Regions from separate parts of the Homo sapiens genome. Here region 2 is linked to region 1. The links come from fine-mapping of genetic effects on gene expression. A gene starts in region 1. The other region holds a variant in brackets. All regions are shown on one strand. Distances are between the middles of the regions.

Region 1 (8,337 bases):
CCGCCGCTGCACTGTGGGAGCCTGTCTCTGGGCTGGCCAAGGCCGGAGCCGGCTCCCTCTGCTTGCGGGGAGGTGTGGAGGGAGAGGCGCGGGCGGGAACCGCGGCTGCGGTTGGCGCTGGCGGGCCCGCGCGAGTTCCAGGTGGGCGCGGGCTCCGCCCGCCCCGCACTTGGAGCGGCGGGTCGGCACCGCTGGCCCGAGGCAGTGAGGGGCTTAGCACCCGAGCCAGCAGCTGCGGAGAGTGCACCGGGTCCCCCAGCACTGCCAGCCTGCCCCTGCGGCGCTCGAATTCTCACGGGGCCTCAGCCGCCTCCCGCGCGGCAGGGCTCGGGACCTGCAGCCCGTCATGCCATGCGCGAGCCCTCCCCTCTCCCGGTGGACTCGTGCCCAGCCCGAGCCTCCTCGAAGGGCGCCGCCCCCTGCTCCACGGCGCCCGGTCCCATCCACTGCCCAAAGGCTGAGGAGTGCGGGCGCGTGGCGCGGGACTGGTGGGCAGCTCCGCTGCAGTCTCGGCGGGCCGGGAACCGCTAGGTGAAGCCAGCTGGGCTCCTGAGTCAGGTGGGGACTTGGAGAACTTTTATGTCTAGCTAAAGGTTTGTAAATGCACCAGTCAGCACTCTGTGTCTAGCTGAAGGTTTGTAAACGCACCAGTCAGCACCCTGTGTCTTGCTCAAGGTTTGTAAAGGTACCAATCAGTGCTCTGTGTCTAGCTAATCTGGTGGGGACTTGAAGAACTTTTGTGTCTAGCTAAAGGATTGTAAATTTACCAGTCAGCACTCTGTGTCTAGCTCAAGGTTTGTAAACACACCAATCAGCATCCTGTCAAAACGGACCAATCAGCTCTCTGTAAAACAGCCCAATTAGCTCTCTGTAAAGCAGACCAATCAGTAGGATGTGGGTGGGGCCGGATAAGGGAATAAATGCAGGCCACCTGAGCTAGCAGGGGCACTCTACTGGGGTCCTCTTCCACTCTGTGGAAGGTTTGTTCTTTTGCTGTTTGCAATAAATCTTGTTGCTGCTCACTCTTTGGGTCTGCGTGCGTTTATGAACTGTAACACTCACCGCGAGGGTCCGCGGCTTTATTCTTGAAGTCAGCAAGACCAAGAACCCACCAATTCCGGACACATTAAGGTCTGAACGAAAATGACGTATTTCTGGAGACGAAGATGTTAACTGCTACATTATATTATCTAGCTTTATAGTGCTCATCATCTGGTAGAGAACATTAAACAAAAATGCACTATAACTAGTAATACAAGGACTATGCAAGTGTAATAAGTCTTATAGAGCAGGGGTCCCCAATCTGAGGACTGCAAATCAGTGCTACACAGCAGGATGGGGTATACAGCAGGACGGGGTACACAGCAGGAGGTGAGCTGCGGGGCAGGAAAGGGAGCGTTACCCCAAGCTCCACCTCCTTGTCAGATCAGCGAGGCATTAGATTCTCATACGAATGCAAACCCCATTATAAACTGTGCATGTGAAGGATCTAGGCTGTATGCTCCTTAGATAAGAATCTGATGATCTGAGATGGAATAGTTTCAACCCGAAACCATCTCCCCTACCCCTGTCCATGGAAAATTTATCTTCTGTGAATTGTCTTCCACCAAACTGGTCCCTGGTGCCAAAATGATTGGGGACCACTGCTATAGAGCACTACGTGTTTAATGGAAACTATTGGTTATACAATGCCTATTATGTGTCAGGAAGTTTTAATATGTCTGTAAGGCATTTAGTTTCTTTAGTAAATAAGGAAAATGAGGCTTAGGGAAATTACTTCCCCAAGTCACAAAAGTAGCTAGCGTAATAGGAGCTCCACCTCAGATGCAGAAGAGGGTATTCTTGCCACTACACTGTGATATTTTTATACCCATCCAGTTATGGTGATCCTTAAAGACTTCATGAAATTTGAAATGAACTCAGAAGAAGGAGATTTTCTCAGGTGAAGAAAGAGCTCAAAACAAAGTAGGGGAAAGCATTACCAGAAGAAGGAATATTTGTCCCACTGAGCGGAATAAAGGCTCCTTGAAGGGGAGGTAGAAGATAAGGCTTGAAAAGACGATGAGGTGAAGGGTCATGGATATCAGACTCAAAAGTTTGTAGCTAGTAAAAGTGAGCCGATAAAAATGTTACTGCTAAGGAACACATCGATTTTTCAGGAAAGACAAGAGTTTTTCCTGGCCTGAGATCCAAAATAAATTTCTTACATGAGATCTAGTAAGGGCACAGGGCACACCAAGTCACCGTGAGTGTCAAAGCAAATCTCAGAGTACTTTTAATCCAACAAACATTTATGAAACATCAGGCTTGGTGTTTTGTGCTAAATAATTCAACCTTAGAACAGAATTCAGTGAAGAGAATACGAGGCTAAATTAATATGACTTTCAAGATCTCCAAAAGGTAGGTTGATCATCTGTTCTGTTAACCATGATCCTGAGATATTTCCTTACAGATGAACTTTTCTCTTATAACCAAAGGTTTACAGTTCAAGATTATACACTTCATTGAGCACCCTGGTCCTGTGGTATTCTTTGCTGTATACCAAGTGCGGATTAATCCGCAGCTTTGAAAATCAAAGAGATATCACCAGTTGTTCATCACCACAGACATTTAGCTGGACTATAAATATTGGAAAGAAAAAAAAGTTGCTCGTGAAAATACGTGGTGAATTCCTTTAAAGAGAAACCGGTGAGAAATATTGCTTCACCTTAAAGCCTAGGATGGTAGCTACCGTTTTTCTCAAGACTGTCCTTACATAACCTATTGGCATGGGGAAAAAGTCAATGTTTATAAACTCCTTAAGAAACTTAAAATCTGGAAAAGGCAACTACGTATCATGTCAACTAAAGTAAGATAATTAACACTAGGATCAAAATTTGGAATCCACGTGAAAGATTCTGCAAAGATCACTTAAATCTCAGACCTTATGCACTATTTTAAATATTTATTTAAGCAGAAATAGAAAATCTTAGTCTATTATATTTCCATTTAATTTCCTGGACTTAAGAAATCTATGTGTGACTGATTGAGTTGCCTAATGGGGTGCAAACATAAAAATTTGCATTGGGATTCATTTTATTCTCAGTTTAAAATCAGTAGTATCATTGAAAACAAGACACTAATTTTCTGGAAGTTTAATTTATTTGTCCCTCTTATTATCGGGGCTGGTAAAAAAGGGCTAATTGAACACACATTCTAACAAAGATTGCAGCAACGCCTGCAAAGACGGGCCCAAGCGCACCGTATTTCTGTTAAGAACGTGTGATTTTTTTTTTCTGCGCCACCTTGTGGCCGTAAAACAACTTGCCCACGTGAAAGTTGACCGCTTTTTCCCGCGCCGGCAGAGCCTTGCTGAGAGCCGCACTGCGGGAATCCGCCTCCAGACAAACGTGCAGAAAATGGTGTCTTCCTTTACAACCAGTGACAGGAAACAGACTTCCCCTTCTTCATACTCCGTTTCCTTTATTCCTGAATTCCATTTCCTCGGCCCGCCCACCCACTGTCCTCAGACAGCCGTTTCCCAGTGTGACCTCCTTTTCCAGCTGCACTCTCCGGCGGAGGCCCTTTTCCCAGCCCGGACCCTCCCGGGCGGCCCTCGCAGCCCTCACCTCCGGGTCCCCGCCGCCCCTGCTCCATTACAGCACGATCCCCGCCACACAGGCCCGCCTCTCCCTCCGACAGCCAATCGCGGCGCGACCCCGCCCCTCCCGCTGGGGCCCGGGGCGCTAGAGCGCTCCGGGAGGCTAGGGGAGCTGAATTCTGCGTCTTCCTTTAGGCTGCGGCGAGACAATCCCCAGAGCCCCGCGGCCCGGCCTCGGGGCAGCCATGGACTCGCAGGAATTGAAGGTGAGCGGGTGAGCGGGTGAGCGGGTGAGCGGGCGGGCGGGCGGAGTTCCTTTGCGGCCTTTTGGCCCGGGGGCGCGGAGGGAGCTCGGGTGGCTTCGCTAGGCCGCTGTTTCCCTGCGGTGCCCCGGCTGCTCGGGTTGCGGGGTGGGCCTGCAGCCTCTGCTCACGGCCGGTCTCCGCGGGCCCTGCTGGGGAAGCCCAGGTCTGGGCAGCCCGCCCGCTCGGTGTTTCTGAATTGCTGGTCCCCATGCTGTTGGTTGTGTTTACTTTTGTATCATGTTTACTAGGAAAGCTTGGGTTACCTATGACACTGCGCCTCCGGGTGCGATTTTTAAGGACTTAAGGCAAACTAGTGTCAGCTCCCACACTGGACAGTAAAAAGAGCGCAGAAAGATTATATGAAACCCATTAAAGACGTAAGACTTAAAAGTGGAGGGGTCGTTATTTTAGGGTGATGGTCTTCTCTGTTTATCACTGACTCATTCATTCAGCAAATATTAATGACGGTCAACTTAAGAAAGGCTGATATAAAACAGTTAAAGACATGAGGCTTGAAAATAAAATAACTTTTCGGATGTTGGTCTTCTCTATTCATTTGTTCACTGAATCACTCGTTCAGCAAATATTTATGAAGGGTTACTGTATGTCCATTAGAAGCTGGAGATAGCAGTGAGCAAAACTGAACAGTTTCTGCCTTCTCAGATTTTACAGGCTAATTAATGCTGGGGAAAAACCCTAATTCAGTTGACTCAACAAATATTTACTGAATGCCTCCTATGTGTCTAGCACTGTTCTAAGCACTGAAATAATAAAACCAAGAAAAACTCTTCCAATCTTGGAGCTTACATTTGAGTAGGAGGAGTCAGACAACAAGTAGGTAAATGAAATGTGTATCCTGTGAGATGGTGATAAGTGGATGGAGGACAATTTGGCGATGTAGGAGGTTAGGGAATGCTGAAATGTCTTGTTTTTCTGCCTGAAGTTTTACATTATCCTCTGTTCTAGCTATCCCCCTATATCCTTACATTTTTTTATTCCCTTAAATGTATTATTTGCACTGCCACCCAAATGAACATTTTAATAAAAACACTTTAATGTAAAATGTAAAAATGGGCCTCCTCATTACTTAGACTTGAGGTTCAAGTCCAAGTACTTAATATGAGGCTTTTCACCCCACCTTCGTCTCCAACCTCATCATCCAATACTCTCTGTCTCACTTAAGCCTCCAGAGCAGAGAATAGCAAACTTTCTCAACAAAGGGCCAGATAGTACACATTTTAGACTTTATGGACCGTATGGTCTATCACATCTAATTGGCTTGTTCAAAACAGCCATAGACAATACTTAAATGAGCATGGCTGTGTTTCAATAAAACTTTATTTATGAACACTGAAATTTGACTTTCATGTAATTTTCATGTTATGAAATATTTCTTTTTTTTCCTTGACAGCTGGAAAATATAAAAACCATTCTTAGTTCACTGGCTGTACAGCCAGCCAGCCAGATATGGCCCACAGAGTGTGGTTTGCCAAACCCTGCTCTAGAGTATGGAGTGGCTTTTAGTCATCTTCATCACCACTGCCATCCCAATGTACCATTGATGACTTGTTATCTGTGTTGTTGCAGTTCCTCTTCCTAACTCCTGTACCTTCCTCAAGAATCATGAAAAGGAAATAGGAAGAGCGTGTACGTGTGTGGAGGGAGAATGAGGGGTTTGCAATTCAAGAGTCAGCTCTGAAATCCTCCCCAATAATCTTTCCCTTGATTTTAGTCATCCATCCTCCCCTCACACCACATTCAGTTTTCAATGCTGTCAAAATGTTGCTATCCCACATTCCCAAAGGAGTTTATAAGCTCTTTTCTTACATTTACTACATTATATTTCAGTTAGTCTTCAGATTACAGTCTCATCTGAAAAATGTAGGTTTTCCGGGGGGACAGGAACCATGTCTTACTCATTTTTCTATTCATAGTAGCTAGCCCAGTGCCTGGGTACTAGTAGGCAGTCAGTAAATGTTTTGGATTGAATAACCTAACCTGAACCAAGGCAGTAGCATTAGGTATGTTTAGTGGGAGGTAGACTGGAGAAATAGAAGAACCTACTAAGTGGTTAGACTTAGAGAGACTGGGCAAATAGGAAGGGAGGATTCATGAGTAGCAGGGTAGCAGGTGGAAAATGGAAATATGAATCTGGAACATAGACAAGAGGTCTTGGCGCAGGACACATTTTTTTTTTATTCCATTAACATATGGGATGCAGAGGAACTTATTTTTTTCAGAATAGAACTCTTATACTATGATATCTTAATTAATTCTCACAGTGACCTGTACATTTGCATTACTAACAGCATTTTATAAATGAGCAGACTGAGGCGTTGTAAGAAGGACCAGAGATTCTTTTTGCCTTTAAATTCGCGTCCTTTTTATGGTGCTATGCCACTGCCTTTCAGGAGGATTATAGATGCTTAGTGATAGTGTGCAGAAGTCAAGTAAGGTATTAAACGTGTCCTTAGTTGTGGCAAAGTAAGAAGTCATTCTGCAACTTTAGGGAATGGAGCATTGGAGGAAAACTGTGTTTCACTGAAATGTGTTGTGGGGGTCTGGAGATGGGGTATGGAGCACACTTTTAAGAAACATGGCTAAAAAGGAGGTTAGGGAGCAGTGATCACAAGGAGGGAGGCAGAGTAAAATTACAGAGAACAGTCGCCTAACTGATCTAGAGAAGTACATGGACTATAGCCCTCCAGAAGCAAGAGACTATATAAAACAGAGCTGTCGGACGGGCGTGGTGGCTCACGCCTGTAATCTCAGCACTTTGGGAGGCCCAGGCGGGTGGATCACTTGAAGTCAAGAGTTCAAGACCAGCCTGGCCAACATGGGGAGCCCCATCTCTACTTAAAAATACAAAAATTAGCCAGGTGCGGTGGGGTGTGCCTATAGTCCCAGATCAGGAGGCTGAGGCAGGAGAATCGCTTAAACCTAGGGGGCAGAGATTGCAGTGAGCAGAGATTGCGCCACTGCACTCCAGCCTGAGTGACAGAATCTCCAAAACAAAACAAAACAAACAAACCAGAGCTGTCTAGATACCCTTAGATTTCAATCCTGTCACTTAGTCACCTGTATTTCTCACTGCTACTGAACAAGCTGTAGAGTCCAGGTAGGTAGGTATGGGGTGGCCCAAACTGCTTTCTGGTGAATCAGGTGTATCCTAGTGATGGTGGGAAAGTGTGGTTTCTGTCTTTGATGAGGTTAGCAACCAAGCCTTAGACATAATCGTAGGAAAAATGGTAGACAGCACAGGCCCATTTTTATTCAGAAGTTAGTAGGTCCTGATAGTAGTTTTGTCTTGTATATGGAAATAATATAACTTTGGAAAAAGCTTAAAGACAACGATTTTCATTGAAAAATAGTTTATTTATTCTTAACTGACAATTTATTTGTCGCAGAACTCAAAGCCGAGTAAGATAACATTTGATGATATGTTGAAGAATTAAATTTGTCATTACTTTGTAATGCTGTAATAAAATACTGGATATTTTAAAAAGAAGATTTTTTTTTTTAAAGAAACCTATGGTCTGGCAATGGAAGCCTCTTGTCTTTTTTTTTTTTTTTTTAGTTCCTGTTTATTGTCTGCCTTTCTGTTTTCTAAAACGTTCAAGAAAATGTGGGCAAAGGAAAAAAGGTGAAAGCAGCCTCATTTCGGTGCTGTTAACAAAAACTTAGGAAAAATAATTTAAATTATTAGAAAACATTGAATTATTTCAGTAATTTTATGATCATTCAGTTCTGCAATCCTTAGCATTGAGTTCTAGCCATTAATAGTATTTTAAGAAACTTGGAAGAAAAAAGTCACATTGCCTGAATTTTACATTATTCTAGATGTTAGATTATTATCTGCTTCTTAGAGTATTTCAGAGCACCAGAATTCCTTTATAACATTTTTTCATTATTTCCATTTAGACTTTGATTAATTACTATTGTCAAGAGAGATATTTCCATCATGTATTACTGGTTGCCAGTGAAGGAATTAAGAGGTATGGAAGTGATCCAGTCTTCAGGTTTTATCATGCCTATGGCACATTAATGGAAGGTACGTGTTAATCATTAAACATGTTCCATCAGTTTTAAATTCTTGCTTTGCACTAAGAACAGTTTTTCATATCATAATCTTGATTTTCAGGTAAAACTCAAGAAGCTCTTCGAGAATTTGAGGCTATTAAAAATAAACAAGATGTATCACTTTGTTCTCTACTTGCACTGATATATGCCCATAAAATGAGTCCTAATCCAGGTATGATATTTAAATGCAATGCTTAGGACATTTTTTCCTATTCAGTTTATTTTTATTTTTCTCAGTTACCAAGTCATTCAGTCTGATCACACTATATTATGTATTTTCTGTAGGTACAATTTATACATATGTTTATCTTCCTGACAAGGGTGTAAATTCATCAGGCACAAGAAATGTGTCTTATACTATTTTCGTGTTCC
Region 2 (8,337 bases), 96 kb after region 1:
TTTAAGCTGGCTGCAGAAGTTTGCATAAGTAACGAGGAGCTGAATGTGAATCATTGCCAAGACAATGGGGAAAATGTCTCCAGCGAATGTCAGTAGTCTTCAAGGTAGCCCCTCCCATCACAGGCCTGGAAGCCTAGGAGGGAAAAATGGTTTCATTGGCTGGGCCCAGTGTCCCTCTGCTGTGTGCAGTCTAAGGACTTAGCGCCCTGTGTCCCAGCCACTCCAGCCATGACTACAAGGGGCCAAGCTAGAGCTCAGGTTGTGGCTTCAGAGGGTGCAAGCTCCAAGCCTTGGCAGCTTTCACGTGGTGTTGAGCCTGTGAGGGCACAGAAGTCAAGAATTGGGATTTGGGAACCTCCACCTAGATTTCAGAGGATGTATGGAAATGCCTGGATGTCCAGGAAGAAGTTTTGCTTCAGGGACAAACCTCACGGAGAACCTCTGCTAGGGTAGTGTGGAAGGCAAATGTGAGGTAGAAGCCCCCACACAGAGTCCCCACTAGGGTGCTGCCTAGTGGAGCTGTGAGAAAAGGGTCTCTATCTTCCAGACCCCAGAATGGAAGATCCACTGACAGCTTGCACTGTGCACCTGAAAAAGTCACAGGCACTCGTTGCCAGCCCATGAAAGCAGCCAGAAAGGAGGCTGTACCCTGCAAAGCCACACTGGCAGAGCTGCCCAAGACCATGGGAACCCATTTCTTGCATCAGCATAACCTGGATGTGAGATAAGGAGTCAAAGCAGATTATTTTGGAGCTTTAAGATTTAACTGCCCTGCTGGATTTTGGACTTGCATGGGGCCTGTAGCTCCTTCGTTTTACCCAATTTCTCCCATTTGGAATGGCTGTATTTACCCAATGCCTGTATCTCCATTGTATCTAGCAAGCAAGTAACTTGCTCTCAATTTTACAGGCTCATAGGCAGAAGGGACTTGCCTTGTCTCAGGTGAGACTTTGGACTGTAGACTTTTAAAAGAGTTAGTGCTGAAATGAGTTAAGACTTTGGGGGACTGTTGGGAAGGCATGATTGGTTTTGACATGTAAGGACATGAGATTTAGGAGGGGCAAGGGGCAGAGTGATATGGTTTGGCTGTGTCCCCACCCAAATATCATCTTGAATTCCCACGTGTTGTGGGAGGGACCCCATGGGAGGTAATTGAATCATGGGGGCAGGTGTTTTCCATGCTGTTCTCATGATAGTGAATACCTCTTACAAGATCTGATGGTTTTATAAGGGGGAGTTTCCCTGTGCAAGCTCTGTTTGCCTGCTGCCATCCATGTAAGACATGACTTGCTCCTCCTTAGCTTCCACCATGATTTTGAGGCCTCCCCAGCCATGTGGAACTGTGAGTCCATGAAACCTCTTTTTCTTTATAAATTATCCAATCTTGGGTATCTTTATTAGCAGCATGAAAATGGGCTAATACACTAGTTCTCACTTCTCACAGACGTTTCACTACTCCCATGTTGTAAGTTTGGCCACATGCAGAGAATGATGTGTAGTTTCTTAGTCCCCAACTCCCACCACCAATATGGCCAGGAAGGAGGCCACCAGGTGACACAGGTTACCCAGGCCCACATCTATGGATAAAAAGGTTGCTGGGCAGACAGCCTGAAGGCTCCACTACAACATGTTATCTGATCCTTTTGCACTTCTCCCTCCACAGTATTTAGTCCAATTTTTTTTTTAATTCACTCAAGTGCTAGCTTAGTTGAACACCTACATTTAAAAACCCACAACTTTTAGTTAAACAATGTAGAAAATTACTGGACTTTCACTGATAAAGAAATTTGCAACATGGTAAATTATTTGTTCAAAATCATAATTCTCCCATCTGTTTTATTTCTCCAAATGTCCAAGCAACCCAAACCAGGACAGTACCAAGGGCTGTACCACCCTAGTGGTACAACCACTAGATATCACCATGACTAAACTAAGAGTTCAGTCGGAACTGTGCTGCTGAGAGTATCAATGAGTTGACAGCTGCCCAGGCTTGCACTTTTCCAAATCACGGAAGAAGGAGCCATAAAGAGCCAGGCTCATCAAAATTGAGTATAAGCAATTCTCAAAGACCATGTTGATAAACAACAAGACCCTTGACCTTTATATTCCTTCTTTATGTGCTAGGTGGCCCTTATATTTACACATTTTTAAATTATTATATAAAAAGAGCCATTAACCATGGTCCCAGCTCATGTAAAAGATGGAGAGATGCTGGGAAGGTATCAAATCAGTTTGGCTCCAGTTAGCCCCAAGGATTTTTCATTAGGCCACGCTACTAAGTCTCTCTGACTTTAATCCCATTTTCTTGGGCTCACATATATCCTGGGGCATTGTGAGGTAAGAATAAGTCAGTCAGGAATCAAACAAAATTCAAAGAAATGGATAGGCATCATGATATGGTTTGGCTCTGTGTCCCCACCCAAATCTCATCTCAAATTATAATCCCCACATATCAAGGGAGGGACCTGTTGGGAGGTGATTGAATCATGGGGTGGTTTCTCCCAGGCTGTTCTTGTGATAGTGAGGGAGTTCTCACAATATCTGGTTGTTTGATAAGTGTCTGGCATTTCCCCTGCTTTCTTGCTGTCTCTCCTGCTGCCTTGTGAAGGAGGTAGCTTGCTTACCCTTTGCCTTCCACCATTATTGTAAATTTTGAAGGCCCCCTGGCCATGTAGAACTTTCAGTGAATTAAACCTCTTTTCACTATAAATTACCCAGTCTTTGGTATCTTTATAGCGATGTTATAACAGACTAATATTAATACATATCACTTCTTTAGGGAAGGCAGTAAACAAGATGCTAACTGATGGAGTGAAATCCCCAGGAGATGCAGAAGGCAAGTGCAGCTAACTGAGGCCTCAGGGGCAGGAGATGCCCATCAGGATGAGAGCTATGTCTTTCTCCAGTGATGACTCTGCTTCTATGAGGTCACCAGCAGTAGAACCATATCTTGCTGGCATACACTTGGGGTAAGAATATCATTGGCAAAGTTGCTTAAGATCCGATCTGCTTAACTATAACTACCTCCCCCTTCCCTGTTTCCTTCATCTTCCTACTCATATACACATGATACTTTCCTCTCCCTTTTTCTAGTTCATCCCCCTGGGAGAACCACTTTCTTGCCTAGAGTGAAACTCTACTCTCTTGTTTATGTTCAACATATTTTGTTGATGCTCCAAATTCTCTTGTTCTGGCTTCTCTCCAAGGCATTTTGTCCTTTTCCTTACAACTAATGTAAAAAAGAAGAAATATCCTTGAACTTCAAACTTTTTTATAATAAACCTTAGTGATCCATCAGACCCAAATGTCTAATCAACAAAAAGAATTTAAAAACATTAACTTTTGCTCAAATACAAGAAGAGCTTAAACTCCAGACTCTTCTAGCACAGCAAGGAAAGAGAAACAACAGTACAGCTAGTTCCATATTAAAAAAATAGGAATGTTCATCTCCTTCCATAATTCAAAAAATACTACCGGAGAATCAGAAAAGTAAAAATTGTGCTTGTATAAAGAGTTCCTGGATTGTACTGGCTTCCTATATCAATCATTTCTCTCCTGCTTTCCTGTAGATGGCCCCGCCTCCTGGACTTCCATCTGT[C/T]ATCAGGAGAACATAACCATCTGGAGTCAGTACAGATCATCAATCCTTCCACATATACAAGTTCATTTTAAATTTTTAAAAATATAATACAACTGAGAAGTCTTCATTAAATTGTTCTGGTGGTCCTACCTGTTTTCTGTTAGGGATCCAATACATCTCAGAGCCACATGGGTGATGCCATAATGCCAGGGCTGAAACACTGCTTTAGGGGTCTTTTACTTTCCTATTGCTGCTATAAAAAATTACCACAAACCTTGAGGCTTCAAACATCACAAATTTATTTTCTTACACTTCTGGAGGTCAGATGTTCAAAATGGGTCTTAGAGCTAAGACCAAGGGGCAACAGAGCTCCCTTCCTTCTGCAAGCTGTAGGGAAGGCTCTGTTCCTTGACTTTTCTGGCTTCTAAGGCCTGCCTGCATTCTTTGTCTCATGATCACATCACTGTGACCTCTACTTCTGTCATCATGTTTCCTTCTCTAACTTTCCTGCCTCCCTCTCTCCCTAATAAGGACCCTTGTGATTATATTTGGGCCTACATGGATAATGCAGCATATGCTCAAGATCCCTAACTTAATCACATCTGCAAAGTTCCTTTTGCCATGTAAGTTAACACATTCACAGGTTTTAGGGATTAGGATGTGGACATCTTCAGTGGGGATGCGGGCATTATTCTGCTGACTACAGGGTCTGATATAATCGGAGGCCCACTTCCTAGAAATCAGAGAACCTGATTTCTAGTCTGCAATTAGGAAATTCAATTAGGAGAGTGCATAGGGATTGCTGGTATCTCTGTTTTACCTTTGACTTATTAGACTGTAGCCACAAATTCTGGCCCCAGCCTATAGAATGTTATAATGAGAAGCACTGGCTTTAAAGTCATACTAACTTGACTGGGATTTGTTTTTTGTTTGTTTGTTTGTTTGTTTTAGACAGGGTCTTGCTCTGTCACCCAGGGTGGGGTGCAGTGGCGTGATCATGGCTCACTGCAGCCTCGACCTCCCAGGCTCAAGTGATCCCCATACCTCAGCCCCACAAGTAGCTGGGACTACAGGCGTGCACCCACCACACCCAGCTAATTTTTTTATTGCTTGAAGAGATAGAGTCTCACTATGTTGCCCAGGCTGATCTTGAACTCCTGGGCTCCAACAGTCCTCCCATCTCAGCCTCCCAGTTCTCGGATTACCCTCATGAGCCACTGTGCCTGGTCTCACCTGGGTTTTCATCTCATAGGAGCTCTGAGAGCTTGGGCAAGTTCCTCACCTTCTGTGAACTTCAGTTTTCACCTCTCTTCTCTGGGGAGGTCTTAGAGGAAAGAGACTCAGAGACTCACCTGCAGGATACTCTTAGGAATAATGCTGGTAAGGGAGGGAGAAAAGCAGGATTGGACTGCAATGAAGTCACAAGGAAGGCTTCAGCTGATCCCCAAGGGACTGTGTTGATGGGATGGCCTCCCATGGCCTCCCTTTAAGGCAAAGGAGACAGACATTGGTTTCCCCTGAGTCAATCTGCCAGGATTGGGACTACATAAGAAGAGTGAGATGCTTGCCTTGAGGACAAAATTTAGAGGGCGTCAAAAAGCTCAGTAGCCAAGATAAATAATATTTTAATGTATTATTATTTTTTAAACCTAAATTAATGCAAAAGTCAGCCTTTATTTAAAAATTTCAGTATTTTGTTCAGGGTGAACTTTTGCATTGGTTAGTATTTTTTAAATAATGCTTTAAAATAGAGAGTGTTTTGGGGAGCCATATTGGAGCCTCAAGCAAAGAGAAAAATCAGTCATATTGATTATATCTTTATTTAAAATTGTGATATTTTGATAATTACAGAACCTTTGCATTTTTTATTTTTAAAATATTACATTAAAATATTGTTTGATTACTGAGTTTTTGGCTCCTGCTTAAATTTAGCACTCAAGGCCAGTTTTTCACCCTAGTCCTGGTCCTGCATTGTACACAGGCTGCCCCACTCTCTCTTCAGGAGGAAATATAGTCTTAATCCAAGGCCAGTGCTTGGAGAGGGGTTTAGCTATGAGCCATTAGCAGCCAATACTCCTGGCATCTGGGGAAATGAGTGCCTTGATTTTGAATAGGGGCATGGTGCCTACCATAGTATCCACTGTGATACTGTGATGTCGACATATAATAAGATTGTTTTGTCATATAGTCATTCACTCATTGGGATAGTAAGATTGTCATGAAGGACATAAAGACTTATGTGAGAGGAACTTCAAGAAGCCTGACTGGAGGCATCTGACACTTACCTCCTCCACAGACAAGAACCAAAATAGCAAGTGCATAATCAAACTTCGAATAGAGCATCTAAGAGAGAATATTGGAATTCAACAGAGAAGGAACAGGAAGCACCTGAGGCATGGAAGGAGCAGGAAGGGAGGCAGTCAGCTCAGCTGGGATCAGCTGGGAGCTCATAAAGACTCCCTAGTTCAGGAAAAGGGTAAGCAGTAGATACCCACCTTTCCATATTCCCACCATGGACTCCTGATACCCTAGCCATGGGAGACCCCATCACAGGCTCTCAGAATAGCATAGGGACCTGCCTGGAGATGACACAAAGGCATTGCTCTAGAGTGGGAGTTCATAATGGTCCAACGCACCCACCAAGTCCTAAGCAGATTCACCATAGGGCCATTTTGAGAGCTTAGGACCCACTGGAGGTTGCATCCCGCCTTGGGGCCCAAGAGCCCCTGCACCTTCACGTCCCTGGAGCCCCACTGACACCATTCTGTGTCCACCCAGAGAGCCGTAGCAGCAATAACACCAGTCAGACTCAGCAGAATGGCAGGGTCCCCAGCACTCCAGCACACACAGTGCCCTGTATGCCAGGTAAACGGTGGTGCAGCACCCTAGGGAGGCTCTCCCAGGACAAAGAAAGCCAAAGCACATACTCTCTATGGCCAGAGAACCACCTACCTGGGACAGCTACCACATATAATGACCCTGCCCCCAGCAGCAGGGCTACTGCAATCACACTCTGAGGACAGACCCTCTCATCACCAGCCACAGCCACTATTGCTGCCACCAGAAGCCAAAACACATGTAGCTGGTCACGACTCCATCTACCAAGCAGCAGGGCTCCCATCACGCATTTGCACATTTCCTGAGAACTAGTTTTCCCTGCTGCTACTACAGCTGATATACCACTGCCACTGCCACTGGGGATTAAAGCATCCCTCCTCCCACACAGCCTAAGAACTGCCTGCCTGTGGCTATAGTTACTGTCAGAAACTCTGCCTCTACTCCAACAGCAGGACTGCAGCATACTTGGACATACCCTAATGGCAGGCTTTCCCTGCCTACCACCCCTGTTGTAGCAGACTCCCAAGCTCTCTACTGGGAGCCTGAGTGTCACTCCTCTCTGCCCACCATAGCCAGGGCCTGATTACATTCCTGGGGTCCCTGGAAACAGGCCTACCTGGCCTGGCACTCCCCCCACTCCAGTGCCCTAGAACACTGTCTAAGGGCTTGTCTCACCCTGTCCACCACCACTGGCATCTGTGCAGTCCTCCTAGGGCTGCTACCACCACAGCAGCACCCACTGCACATACTGCCTAGGGAATGAGGGACTGACATACCCAGCTCCTTGTAGATATCACTAACACCAATGTGTGTCACTTCAGAGCCCAAGGATTGTCTTGCCATTACTACTGCCATCACCCACATCACACATGCTATCCAGGGACCAAGGACCCACTCGACTGACTGACCCACCACTACCACTGCAGCACTTCAGCCATCTGTAGACCTAAGTATTGGCCTGTTTCAACCCACTAACACTGGTGACTTCATACGCCAACTGGGAACCCGAGGCCAGGCATGCTTGGTCTACTGCTGCCGCGACTGGAATCTGATGACTGGCCTACCTGTAATCCTCATCCTCAACAAAACCTCACCATAGCCTCCACTAACAACAACAACCTAAGCCACTTAGGAAATCACAGACACAGCTGATGCTGTTTACAGCTGAATAAATCATATGGAGACTACACTACTGCATGCACCCAGAATCAAAGCTAGTGTCCTACCCAACCAACAGCATAGATGTATCTTCAGGAAAAATCCCTTCCCTTGTAAAAGTCAATTCAAAAAAAAATTGGAAGAAGTGACTGTTACACCGGAGGTACAGTTATCAACGTAAAAACACAAGAAACCAATCCAGGCAACATAGCAAACCTTGTCTGTGCTAAAAATAAAAATAAAATGTTAGCCAGGAATGGCAGCACACTGCAGGCTATAGTCCTAAATACTTAGCAGGTTGAGGCAGGCTTGAGAGTAGGAACTTGAGTTCATAGTGAGCTATGATTGATAACACTGAAAATAATTGAAAGAAATCAGAAAAACAATTCAGGATGTGAGTGAGAAATTCACCAGAGATAGATATAATAAAAAAGAACAAACCAGAAGTCCTGGAAAGAAAGAATTCAATGAATGAAATTTTAAAAATTCATACAAGAGCTTCAACAATAGATCAAACAAAAGCAAAAATCTCAGAACCTGAAGACAAGTCTTTTGAAATTGCCCAGTCAGATTTTTTGAAAAGAAGAAAAGAGAATAAAAAAGAATGAACAAATCCTGTGACATAAGAACACAACACAACTAAATACATGAATTTTGGGTGTTCCAGAAGGTGAAGAGACCAAATCCATAGAAAACCTATTTAACAAAATAATAGCTGAAAACTTCCCAAGTCTAGCAAGAGATTTAGACATATAGATATGGGA

The links.
Region 2: its variant is fine-mapped to the expression of TTC21B in whole blood (TOPMed, PIP 0.96).

What each region holds. Positions count from the first base shown.
Region 1 is chr2:165,949,194-165,957,530 of GRCh38, reverse strand. It overlaps TTC21B (tetratricopeptide repeat domain 21B), which reads left to right and starts at 3,755. Exons shown (of 29, transcript NM_024753.5): 1 at 3,755-3,846; 2 at 7,807-7,936; 3 at 8,027-8,137. The coding sequence starts at 3,826. LOC102724058 (a long non-coding RNA gene) reads right to left here and starts at 113. Exons shown (of 4, transcript NR_110598.1): 1 at 1-113. RefSeq lists an enhancer at 2,991-3,740 and a silencer at 3,505-3,904.
Region 2 is chr2:165,852,847-165,861,183 of GRCh38, reverse strand. It overlaps LOC100506124 (a long non-coding RNA gene), which reads left to right. Exons shown (of 4, transcript NR_045375.2): 3 at 2,780-2,969; 4 at 3,570-3,709. Among named protein-coding and RNA genes, the nearest start is that of GALNT3, 63 kb to the right of the region's middle. RefSeq lists an enhancer at 6,788-7,289. The variant C/T (reference allele first, on the strand shown) is at 3,599.